Regions from separate parts of the Homo sapiens genome. Here region 1 is linked to region 2. A link means that fine-mapping ties the variant in region 2 to the expression of a gene that starts in the linked region. Tissue or cell type: sigmoid colon. Region 2 holds a variant in brackets; the other region holds the start of a gene. All regions are shown on one strand. Distances are from middle to middle.

Evidence for each region. PIP is the estimated chance that this variant, and not a neighbour inherited with it, causes the effect.
Region 1: it holds the start of CRELD1, and the variant in region 2 is fine-mapped to the expression of CRELD1 in sigmoid colon (GTEx, PIP above 0.99).

The regions. Positions count from the first base shown.
Region 1 is chr3:9,931,236-9,936,235 of GRCh38, forward strand. It overlaps CRELD1 (CRELD disulfide isomerase 1), which reads left to right and starts at 2,599. Exons shown (of 11, transcript NM_001077415.3): 1 at 2,599-2,685; 2 at 3,185-3,377; 3 at 3,600-3,682. The coding sequence starts at 3,204. IL17RC (interleukin 17 receptor C) reads left to right here. Exons shown (of 19, transcript NM_153460.4): 17 at 1,373-1,468; 18 at 1,585-1,623; 19 at 1,718-2,386. The coding sequence ends at 2,358. RefSeq lists silencers at 1,571-1,630, 2,211-2,540 and an enhancer at 2,641-3,010.
Region 2 is chr3:9,256,680-9,264,254 of GRCh38, forward strand. SRGAP3-AS4 (SRGAP3 antisense RNA 4) reads left to right here. Exons shown (of 3, transcript NR_146969.1): 2 at 80-321; 3 at 694-828. It also overlaps a transcript of SRGAP3 not described here. Among named protein-coding and RNA genes, the nearest start is that of SRGAP3-AS4, 11 kb to the left of the region's middle. The variant A/G (reference allele first, on the strand shown) is at 4,318.

The DNA of each region.
Region 1 (5,000 bases), 670 kb after region 2:
TGCATACAATGTGGACCTGACCTGGGTGGGGTGAGGGGTGAGGGGCTCAGGGGGAAGGTTCCAGCAAAACTCTGAAGACTGAGCTAGGGGAAGGGGGTAGAGATACAGGGTCTTGGACAGGCAGGTTTCTGTCATGAGATAAAGATGCAGGAGACATGTAGGGGATTTGGATCTTATGTTGAGAGCAGCAGGAGCTACGATCAAATTTTTATATATTTCACACACACACACACACATATATATATATATATATATATATATATATATACTTATTTTTTTATTTATTTTTGAGGCAGAGTCTCACTCTGTTGCCCAGGCTGGAGTGCAATGGCGCGATCTCGGCTAACTGCAACCTCTGCCTCCCGGGTTCAAGCAATTCTCTACCTCAGCCTCCCGGGTAGCTGGGATTAATAGGCGCCTGCCACCATGCCCTGCTAATTTTTGTATTTTTAGTAGAGATGGGGTTTCACCATCTTGGCCAGGCTGGTCTTGAACTCCTGACCTCGTGATCCGCCCGCGTCGGCCTCCCAAAGTGCTGGGATTATAGTCGTGAGTCACCGCACCTGGCCCAAATTTATATTTTTAAAAGATCTCTGAGGCTGTCATGAATCAATTCAAGGCAAATCAATTGGAGGTAAAAAAAAAAAAAAAAAGACAGGGCAGGGACACCAGGTAGTTGCAGACACCCAGGACAGCAAGATCAAGGGCCCAGCAACCCTAGCTTAGGGGAGAAAAACAGCTGACATTTTAGCACTTAAGATGCTCGGCATTGTGTTAAGTATGTATTAACACATTGTGTTAAGCTTTATATGTATTAATATATTTAGTCCTCACACCAACCCTATGACACAGGTACAACTTTACAGAGGAGAAAACTGAGGCAGAGGGTGACATTACTTATTCAAAGACCCCTAAACAGATGGAGCTATATTCATCCACTGGCTCTGACACTGTGCTGTGGACTCTGGGCAAATCATTTCTTCGTTTTTTGTTTTGTTTTGTTTTGTTTTGAGAGGAGTCTCACCCTGTCGCCCAGGCTGGAGTGCAATGGCGCGATCTCGGCTCACTGCAACCTCTGCCTCCCGAGTTCAAGCGATTCTCTTGCCTCAGCCTCCCGAGTAGCTGGGATTACAGGCGTGTGCCACCACGCCCGGCTAATTTTTTGTATTTTTAGTAGAGACGGGGTTTCACCGTGTTAGCCAGGATGGTCTTGATGTCCTGACCTCGTGATCTGCCCGCCTCGGCCTCCCGAAGTGCTGGGATTATATAAAGGCATGAGCCACCGCACCCGGCCCAATTCATTTCTGTTAAGTCTCAGTTTTTCTTCTCTGTGGAGGGTAAGTTTCTAACTCTTCTTCTCTGGGTCTCCCAGACATCCACAAGCGCTGGGCCCTCGTGTGGCTGGCCTGCCTACTCTTTGCCGCTGCGCTTTCCCTCATCCTCCTTCTCAAAAAGGATCACGCGAAAGGTGAGCGCTTCCCGGCTCCCCATTCCCCTGGGGGAGGACCAGAGTGGCTGTGGGAGTTCTCCGAGGGAAAGCGGCGGCCGAGCTCACTGGCTGCCTCCGCCCCTCTCCCCTAACAGGGTGGCTGAGGCTCTTGAAACAGGACGTCCGCTCGGGGGGTGAGTGGGAGCAAGCGCTGGGCGGAGGGCCGCCCCCGGGGAGCCAGGCCTGTGCCAGCTCACCTCTTCCCTCCCCATCTGTTTTCTCCGGCAGCGGCCGCCAGGGGCCGCGCGGCTCTGCTCCTCTACTCAGCCGATGACTCGGGTTTCGAGCGCCTGGTGGGCGCCCTGGCGTCGGCCCTGTGCCAGCTGCCGCTGCGCGTGGCCGTAGACCTGTGGAGCCGTCGTGAACTGAGCGCGCAGGGGCCCGTGGCTTGGTTTCACGCGCAGCGGCGCCAGACCCTGCAGGAGGGCGGCGTGGTGGTCTTGCTCTTCTCTCCCGGTGCGGTGGCGCTGTGCAGCGAGTGGCTACAGGATGGGGTGTCCGGGCCCGGGGCGCACGGCCCGCACGACGCCTTCCGCGCCTCGCTCAGCTGCGTGCTGCCCGACTTCTTGCAGGGCCGGGCGCCCGGCAGCTACGTGGGGGCCTGCTTCGACAGGCTGCTCCACCCGGACGCCGTACCCGCCCTTTTCCGCACCGTGCCCGTCTTCACACTGCCCTCCCAACTGCCAGACTTCCTGGGGGCCCTGCAGCAGCCTCGCGCCCCGCGTTCCGGGCGGCTCCAAGAGAGAGCGGAGCAAGTGTCCCGGGCCCTTCAGCCAGCCCTGGATAGCTACTTCCATCCCCCGGGGACTCCCGCGCCGGGACGCGGGGTGGGACCAGGCGCGGGACCTGGGGCGGGGGACGGGACTTAAATAAAGGCAGACGCTGTTTTTCTACCCATGTGGCCCACACGCGTCTCCGTTTCAGTGGCGGGGCTGGCAAACGTCATTCCCTAGCCCCGCGGCCCTTTAAAGCCCGGACAGGTGCAGCTCGGTGCCGCCTCTGGTTGGCTGGCGTGGGGTGACGTAATGGCACATGGCCCGTCGCCATTGGCTGGGCGGCAAGCTCCGCCCCCTGGACTGCGGCGCGGGTGGGGGTTGTGCGTTTTACGCAGGCTGTGGCAGCGACGCGGTGAGGAGACGGCCCACGGCGCCCGCGGGCTGGGGCGGTCGCTTCTTCCTTCTCCGTGGCCTACGAGGGTCTGGATCCTTCTCTGCCGGCTCGTGGGCCGTGCCTTTGCCCTTCTGCGAGGCCCTGAATCTGATCCCTTCCCTTCATATCCGGATCCGGGCTCCTCCCTCCAAGCCCGGGGTTCCGGACACCTCCCCCAAGACAACCCCTCTGGCCTCCTCTCCTTCAGTACTTGGAATCTGATCTCTTCTCCCTAATTCTGCGGATCCGGCCCCTAATATTCTTTATCAGACCCTCAGACAAGAGGCTGACTTCTGCCCCCTTGTCAAGGAGCGAGGCCACTTTCCTCTCCACCCCATGCTAGCGAGGATAACTTATTTCTCTTCTGGAATTGCATCTTATGCGCCTTTCCCCACCCATCCCCACAGCCCCTGCAATACCCAGTTTGGCCTCTTTTGCTTGTAATAACGCAGATCCCAGCGCCACGGCACCTTAGAACAGACCTTTTTCTTTCTCGCGTGGGGCCTGACTCCTTCAGTGAAGCCTCTCCACGCCCTCTATCTGCAGGTCCCCAGCCTGGGTAAAGATGGCCCCATGGCCCCCGAAGGGCCTAGTCCCAGCTATGCTCTGGGGCCTCAGCCTCTTCCTCAACCTCCCAGGACCTATCTGGCTCCAGCCCTCTCCACCTCCCCAGTCTTCTCCCCCGCCTCAGCCCCATCCGTGTCATACCTGCCGGGGACTGGTTGACAGCTTTAACAAGGTGGGTGCACCGGCAGCCTCGTTAGAGGGGAACACAGCGATTTAGAGTGGGGAACTCTGGGATGCAAATCTGCGTGGATTTAAGTTTCATCTTGGTCTCTTACTAGTTGTATGGCCCTAGGCAGGTTGCCTTTCTGTGCCTCAGTTTCCTAGTCAGTAGAACAGTGAAGTGCTAGCATGTGCCAGGCACTGTACTTAGCTATTACTAATTTTCTGTTTCCAGGGCCTGGAGAGAACCATCCGGGACAACTTTGGAGGTGGAAACACTGCCTGGGAGGAAGAGAATTTGTCCAAATACAAAGACAGGTAAGGGGCTGCTGGGGGAAGGGGTGTATATTCCCCTCCCCGCCAAATCTCTGCTCTGCTGGTGTAGGGCTAGGAACTCTTGGGGAGCACTTATTCATTCAACAAATAGCACTGAACATCTATAGTATAGCAGTAAACAAGGCAAGCAAAATGCCCCCTTCCTGGAGCTCACATTCTAGTAGAGAAGACAAGCAGTGAATGAGTAAGTGAATAATATTATGTCAGATGAAGAACAAACAGTGAAGCACGGTAGACTGCAGGACGGTGGGAGGCAAGGTGTTCAAGGTTTGGCATTTGAACAGAGAGACAGGAAGTGAAGAAGCGAGCTATGTGACAGGGAGGGAATTGGGCAGAGGATGGGACTGAGCTTGGTGTATTTGAGAAGTGGCTGGAGTGGAGTGAGCCAAGGGGAGAGTGCTAGAAGGTGAAGGCAAAGGCTTAAGCCTCGAGGGCTACAGAAAAGAGTTTAGATTTTTTTTGGAGTGTAATGGGAAGCTCTTGGAAGGCTATGAGCAGAAAAAGTGATACTGTCTTCTCTACACCTTTAAAGATTACTCACACTGCTATGTAGCAAACGGATTGTAAGGGGCAAGGGCGGAGGAAGCAGGGAGACCAGTTTGGGAGGCAAGTGCATCATCTAGGTACAAAGGCAACACAAGCTAGTGTGGTATCTAGTGGAGGACATGATGAAGAGGTCACAGTCTGGGTATATTTTGCAGAGAGAACAATAGGACCTGGTGATAGATTCATTATGGGTATAGAGAAACAGTAGAATAAAAGATGCTTACTAGATTTTGGGCCTGAGCAACTGGGTGAGTAGTGCAGCTGTTTTCTAAGATGGTGAGATGCGAAACCGAGAAGGTTTAGGGGAGGGGTGGGATGTGGTGTTCTTTGAACGTATTGGGCTGAAATGTCCATTAGACATCCAGGTAGACTCCATACAAATCTGGAATTCAGAAAAGAGTAGGAATTGGAAACAGGAATTTGAGAGTTGTCATTATATAGTCAGTATGTAAAGAAAGCCATGGGAAGGATACAGAAAGCCATTATATAGTCAATATATGTAATACAGAAAGCCATTTATATAGTCAGTATGTAAAGAAAGGCATGGGAAGGATACAGAAAGGCGAGCCCTGAGCCCTCCAGCTTTTCAAAGTCAGATGGAAGAGGAGTCAGCAAAGGCTCAGAGTTAGACCTGGTTGTCGGTTCTTAACCTCTCAGAGCCACAGTTTCTTCACCTGTAAAATGGGGATATTAATACCTGGTTTGCCTATTTCATAGAAGTGTGGAAAAGGCTTAACTGGGATGCCCACTAGAA
Region 2 (7,575 bases):
CCCCAGGGGAGGAAAAGTGACTTAGCTGATTGGTGAATTTGAGAGAGACTAAGTTCACACATTAATCTTCTCTTTTCAGCTCCGCCTGCATTCTGCCCCTGTGGAGGAGACCTCTGGTTCTGCAACTGCCTGGGAGAGTCTAAGTCGGTGATGGAGAGTTAACTGGCCTGGTGGACACATACCTACCATGTCCTGCAATCTAGCTTAAAGCTTACACTTTAAGAAACAGAATAACAAGAATAGATTCTAGAGCTGAGTTTAAACCCTGGCTCCACCACTGATAAGCTGTGTGACCTTGGGCAAGTTGTTAGCTGGCACCCAGTAAGTGCCACATAAGCATCTGTTAAAATCTCCATCTGTCTACATTCTTTATCTATTCCTCAGTTAGTTCAGAACCTAAATGGGAAAGAAAGGTGTTATATATTGCCCCTATGAAAGCCCAACACAAAATAATTTACACCTTATATTTTTTTAATTCTAAAGCATGGGGTATGCAATGGATTGAATGCTTGTGTCCCCTTAAAATTCATGGGTTGAAATTCTTACTCTCGATGTGATGCTATTTGGAAATGGTTTTGTGGGAGGTAATTAGGGTTAAATGAGGTCATGAGGATGGGGCCCTTATGATGGGATTAGTGCCCTTTGAAGGAAGACACCAAAGCGAACTCTCTCTCTTTCTCTCTGCCCTATGAGGACACATTGAGAAGATGGTCATCTGAAAGCCAGGAAAAGAGACTGCTCCAGAACCTGACCATGCTGGCACCCTAATCTCAGATTTCCACCCTCCAGAACTGTGAGAAAATACATGTCTGATTTTTAAGCCCCCAAGTATATGGTATTTCTTTATGGCACCCTAAGCTAACACATTCAGGTTAGGAAGCCTAAATAATGGTTGTTTGAAAAAAATAATAATAACAATGTGCAAAAGAAGGGCATAGGAAAAGAGAGTGGTCTACCAAATGCTATAAATAGATGATTTTTACGAATTCATTTACTCACTCATTAAACAAAATAGCTCCTTTTTTTTTTTTTTTTTTTTTTTTTTGAGACAGTCTCACTCTGTCGTCCAGGCTGGAGCACAGTAGCATGATCTTGGCTCACTGCAACCTCTGCCTCCTAGGTTCAAGCAATTCTCCTGCCTCAGCCTCCTGAGTAGCTGGGATTACAGGCACCCACGACCGCGCCTGGCTAATTTTTGTATTTTTAGTAGAGACGGGGTTTCACCATCTTGGTGAGGCTGGTCTCGAACTCCTGACCTTGTGATCCACCTGCCTTGGTCTCCCAAAGTGCTGGGATTATAGGCATAAGCCACCACACTTGGCCTAAACAAAATATATCTTAAGCACTCGATATAGTCTAGGCATTGAGATATGCACAATCATGAACTGGACAGAGATAGTTCCTACTGTTGTGAAGACCTCAGTTTAATGGAAGAGACTGGTAAACAGGCAATTGTAATTCAACATTATGGAGAAGCACAGGGTCCCATGGGATCTCATGTAAGGGCACTTGACCTAGACTTGGAAACACAGAAGCGGTTTCTTGGAGGCGAAAATTTCTAAGCTGAGCTTAGAAAGACAAACAGCTGGAGAGAACCCACCCAAGTAGGGGAGGGAAAGTATTCCCAGCTAAGGGAACTGCATGAGCCAAGGGGACAATTGGTATAGCTGGAGCAGAGTGCCAGGCAGAGAGTGGGAGAGGTGATGCTGGACAGAGACATGGGCTGGAGTGTGAGAAGCTTCCTAGGCTGTATTAACAAGCTCGGAGTTTCATCTGGGTTCCCCCAGGAGCCCTGAAGGGAACTGACATCAGATTGGCCTTTGAGGAAGGTGACTCTAGTGGCAGTGTGGAAACCAGACTAGAACAGGCAAGACAAGGAGCTAGAAAATATTTTGAGAGACAAAGATGGGTTAGACAAGATGATGCCACGTACCATCATACTGAAAATACTGGCGACTTTATAGACACTAGCTCTCTGCATCCTCTTATCAGTGGCACCACATACCAGGTGCTATCATTGCCCCCTGTATTTTCGGATGCAGAATTGAGCTACAACACGAATACTGCCTCCCTCTAGGGTTAGCTACTGCCCTTTCTCCGTGATCCCAAGGCCTCAATTTCTCCCACCTGAACAGCTTTAGAGCTCCCTGCTGGTCCCTCTGTCTCTGATCGTGCCTCCCTCCTATTTGCGATCAACCCTGGAACCCGAGTGAGCTTTTCACGTGTGAATCAGATCATAATAATTTCCCGTGGGCAGCCTGCGATGTCCTCCTCGCACTTAAGAGTTGAATGCACGCTCCTCCCCATGAGCCCACGGGATTGGGCATCCGCCTCGCTCCTAAGCCCATCTCTTGCTTCTCTCCCTCTTGCTCCCTACTCCGGGCCATGCTTGGCCTTCTTATATTTCTGCAGTGCTCCCAGCACTTGCTATTCATTCAGATCCTCCCCGGGTCCTGGCTCCTGCGTCGCCTTCTCACACAGGCCCACCCAGACCACCCTAACCAAACGACTACTCCAGCACATTTCCCTGTTTCTTTTTTTTCATATGGCTACCACATTTGAAGTTATCTTATTTACCTACTTTGGTGGGGAGTGGGTAATTTTTTCTTTTTTTTTAGAGAGAGGGTCATGCCCTGTCACCCAGGCTAGAGTGAAATGACATGATCACAGACTTCTGCAGCCTGGACTTCCTGGGCTCAAGCGATCCTCCCCTTTCAGCCTCCCAAGTAGCTGGGACTACAGATCATACTGAAACACCAGGTGTGACCTGAAACACCAGGTGCCCAGCTAATTTTTTTATTTTTTTGTAGAGATGGTGGTGGTCTCACTGTATTGCTGAGGCTGGCCTCAAAGACCTGGGCTCAAAGGATCTTCCTGCCTCGGCCTCCAAAATGTTGGGATTACAGGCATGAGCCACTGCACCCAGCTACATATTTGTTTGTTCACTTAATGACTATTTCTGGACTCTCCACACCCCACCTCCACTAGACCAACATGTCTAAGAGAATATTCTGCATCGGTGAAAATTTTCTGTACCTGCACTGTCCAATACGATTGTCACTAGTCCCAGGTGGCCATTGAGCACTTAAAATGTGGCAAGTGTGACTGCAGAATTCAATTTTTAGGTTGGCTTCATTTAATGAGTTTAAATCTAAATAGCTGGGGGCCAGGGGTGGGGCTGGCAAGATGGCCAAACAGGAACAGCTCTGATCTGCAGCTCCCAGCGAGACCAAGAAGACGGGTGACTTCTGCATTTCCAACTGAGGTACCCACCTCATCTCATTGGGCCTGGTTAGACAGTGGGTACAGCCCACAGAGGGCAAGCAGAAGCAGGGTGGGGCGTCGCCTTACCTGGGAAGCACAAGGAGTCAGGGAACCCCCTTCCCTAGCCAAGGGAAGTCGTGAGGAACTGTGCCGTGAGGGACAGTGCTATCCAGCCCAGATACTATGCTTTTCCCATTGTCTTCGCAACCCACCGACCAGGAGATTCCCTCGGGTGCCTACACCACCAGGGCCCTGGGTTTCAAGCACAAAAATGGGTGGCAATTTGGGCAGACACTGAGCTAGCTGCAGGAGTTTTTTTCGTACCCCAGTGGTGCCTGGAATGCCAGAGAGATAGAACCGTTCACTCCCATGGAAAGGGGGCTGAAGACAGGGAGCCGAGTGATTGTGCTAAGTGGACCCCACCCCCATGGAGTCCAGCAAGCTAAGATTCACTGTCTTGAAATTATCGCTGCCAGCACAGCACTCTAAAGTCGACCTGCGATGCTGAGCTTGGTGTGGGGAGGGGCGTCCGCCATTAAGGAGGCTTGAGTAGGTTGTTTTCCCCTTATAATGTAAATAAAGCCACTGGGAAGTTCAAACGATGCGGAACCCACTGCGGCGTGGCATCGCCACTGTAGCCAGACTGCCTCTCTAGATTCCTCCTCTCTGGGCAGGGCATCTCTGAAAGAAAGGCAGCAGCCCCAGTCAGCGGCTTATAGATACAATTCCCATCTCCCTGGGACAGAGAACCTGGGGGAAGGGGCAACTGTGGGCGCAGCTTCAACAGACTTAAACGTTCCTGCCTGCCAGCTCTGAAGTGAAGATTCACAGCTCTGAAGTGAAGAAATCACAGAGAAATCTCTCTGAAGAGAGCAGTGGTTCTCCCAGCACAGTGCTTGAGCTCTGCTAAGGGACAGACTGCATCCTCAAGCGGATCCCTGACCCCCGTGCCTCCTGACGGGGAGACACCTCCCAGCAGGGGTTGACAGACACCTTATACAGGAGTGCTCCAGCTGGCATCTGGCGGGTGCCCCTCTGGGACAAAGCTTCCAG[A/G]GGAAGAAGCAGGCAGCAATCTTTGCTGTTCTGCAGTCTCCACTGGTGATACCCAGGCAAACAGGATCTGGAGTGGACCTCCAGCAAACTCCAGCAGACCTGCAGAAGAGGGGCCTGTTAGAAGGAAAGCTAACAAACAGAAAGCAATAGCATCAACATCAACAAAAAGGACGTCCACGCAAAAGCTCCATCCAAAGGTCACCAACATCAAAGGCCAAAGGTAGATAAAGCCATGAAGATGAGGAAAAACCGAAGCAAAAAGGCTGAAAATTCCAAAAACCAGAATGCCTCTTCTCCTCCAAAGGATCAAAACTCCTCACAAGCAAGGGAACAAAGCTGGATGGGGAATGAGTTTGACAAATTAACAGAAGTAGGCTTCAGAAGGTGGGTAATAACAAACTCCTCTGAGCTAAAGAAGCATGTTCTAACTAAATGCAAGGAAACTAAGAACCTTGATAAAAGGTTACAGGAACTGCTAACTAGAATAACCAGTTTAGAAAAGAACATAAATGACCTGATGGAACTGAAAAACACAGCACAAGAACTTCGTGAAGCATACACAAGTATCAATAGCCAAATCAATCAAGCAGAAGAAAGGATATCAGACATTGAAGATGAACTTAATGAAATAAGCATGAAGACAAGATTAGAGAAAAAAGAATGAAAAGGAACGAATAAAGCCCCCAAGAAATATGAGACTATGTGAAAAGACCAAACCTACGTTTGATTGGTGTACCTGAAAGTGACAGGGAGAATGGAACCAAGCTGGAAAACACACTTCAGGATATTATCCAGGAGAACTTCCCCAACCTAGCAAGACAGGTCAACATTCAAATTCAGGAAATACAGAGAACACCACAAAGATACTCCTCATATATTTAAAAAAAAAAAAAAAAAAAGACACATAATCCTCAGATTCACCAAGGTTGAAATGCAGGAAAAAATGTTTAGGGCAGCCAGAGAGAAAGGTCGGGTTACCTACAAAGGGAAGCCCATCAGACTAACAGTGGATCTCTCTGCAGAAACCCTACAAGCCAGAACAGAGTGGGGGCCCATATTCAACATTTTTAAAGAAAAGAATTTTCAACCCAGAATTTCATATCCAGCCAAACTAAGCTTCATAAGAGAAGGAGAAATAAAATCCTTTACAGACAAGCAAATGCTGAGAGATTTTGTCACCACCAGGGCTGCCTTACAAGAGTTCCTGAAGAAAACACTAAATATGGAAAGGAAAAACTGGTACCAGCCACTGCAAAAACATACCAAAATGTAAAGACCACAACACTATGAAGAAACTGCATCAACTAATACGCAAAATAACCAGCTAGCATCATAATGACAGGATCAAATTCACACATAACAATATTAACTTTAAATGTAAATGGATTAAATGCCCCAATTAAAAGACATAGACTGGCAAATTGAATAAAGTCAAGACCCATCGGTGTGCTGTATTCAGGAGACCCATCTCACGTGCAAAGACACACATAGGCTCAAAATAAAGGGATGGAGGAAGATTTACCAAGCAAATGGAAAGCAAAAAAAAAAAAAAAAAAAAAAGCAGTGGTTGCAATCCTAGTCTCTGATAAAATAGACTTCAAACCAACAAATATCAAAAAAGAAAAAGAAGGGCATTACATAATGGTAAAGGGATCAATGCACAAGAAGAGCTAATTATCCTAAATATATATGCACCCAATACAGGAGAACCCAGATTCATAAAGCAAGTTCTTAGAGACCTACAAAGAGACTTAGACTCCCACACAATAATAGTGGGAGACTTTAACACCCCACTGTCAATATTAGACAGATCAACAAAACAGAAAATTAACAAGGATATTCAGGACTTGAACTCAGCTTTGGACCAAGTGGGCCTAATAGACATCTACAGAACTCTCCACCCCAAATCAACAGAGTATACATTCTTCTCTGCACCAAATAGCACTTATTCTAAAATTGACCACATAATTGGAAGTAAAACACTCCTCAGCAAATGCAAAAGAATGGAAATCATAACAGTCTCTCAGACCACAGTGCAATCAAATTAGAACTCAGGATTAAGAAGTTCATTCAAAACCACACAACTACATGGAAACTGAACAACCTGCTCCTGAATGATTATTGGGTAAATAACGAAATTAAGGCAAAAATAAATAAGTTCTTTGAAACCAATGAGAACAAAGATACGAAGTACCAGAATCTCTGGGACACAGCTAAAGCAGTGCTTAAAGGGAAATTTATAGCACTAAATGCCCTCAGAAGAAAGCAGGAAAGATCTAAAATCGATACCCTAACATCACAATTAAAAGAACTAGAGAAGCAAGAACAAACAAATTCAAAAGCTACCAGAAGACGAGAAATAACTAAGATCAGAGCAGAACAGAAGGAGACAGAGACATGAAAAACCCTTCAAAAAAAAATCAATGAATCCAGGAGCTAGCTTTTTTGAAAAAATTAACAAAATAGATAGACTGCTAGCCAGGCTAATAAACAAGAAAAGAGAGATGAATCAAATAGACACAAGAAAAAATGATAACGGGGATATCACCACTGATCCCACAGAAATACAAACTACCATCAGAGAATACTATAAACACCTCTATGCAAATAAACTAGAAAATCTAGAAGTAATGGATACATTCCTGGACACATACACCCTCCCAAGCCTCAACCAGGAAAAACTTGAATCCCTGAAGAGACCAATAACAAGTTCTGAAATTGAAGCATAATTAATAACCTACCAACAAAAAAAGCCCAGGACCAGAGAGATTCACAGCTGAATTCTACCAGAGGTACAAAGAGGAGCTGGTACCATTTCTTCTGAAACTATTCCAAACAATAGAAAAAGAGGGACTCCTCCCTAACTCATGTTATGAAGCCAGCATCATCCTGATACTAAAACCTGGCAGAGACACAACAAAAAGAGAAAATTTCAGGCCAATATCCCTGATGAATATAGATGCAAAAATCCTCAATAAAATATTGGCAAACCGAATCCAGCAGCACGTTCTAAAGCTTATCCACCACAATCAAGATGGCTTCATTCCTGGGATGCAAGGCTGGTTCAACATAAGCAAATCAATAAACATAATCCATCACATAAACAGAACCAATGACAAAAACCACATGATTATCTCAATAGATGCAGAAAAGGTCTTCGATAAAATTCAACACCCCTTCATGCTAAAAACACTCAATAAACTAGGTATTGATGGACCATATCTCAAAATAATAAGAGCTATTTATGACAAACCCACA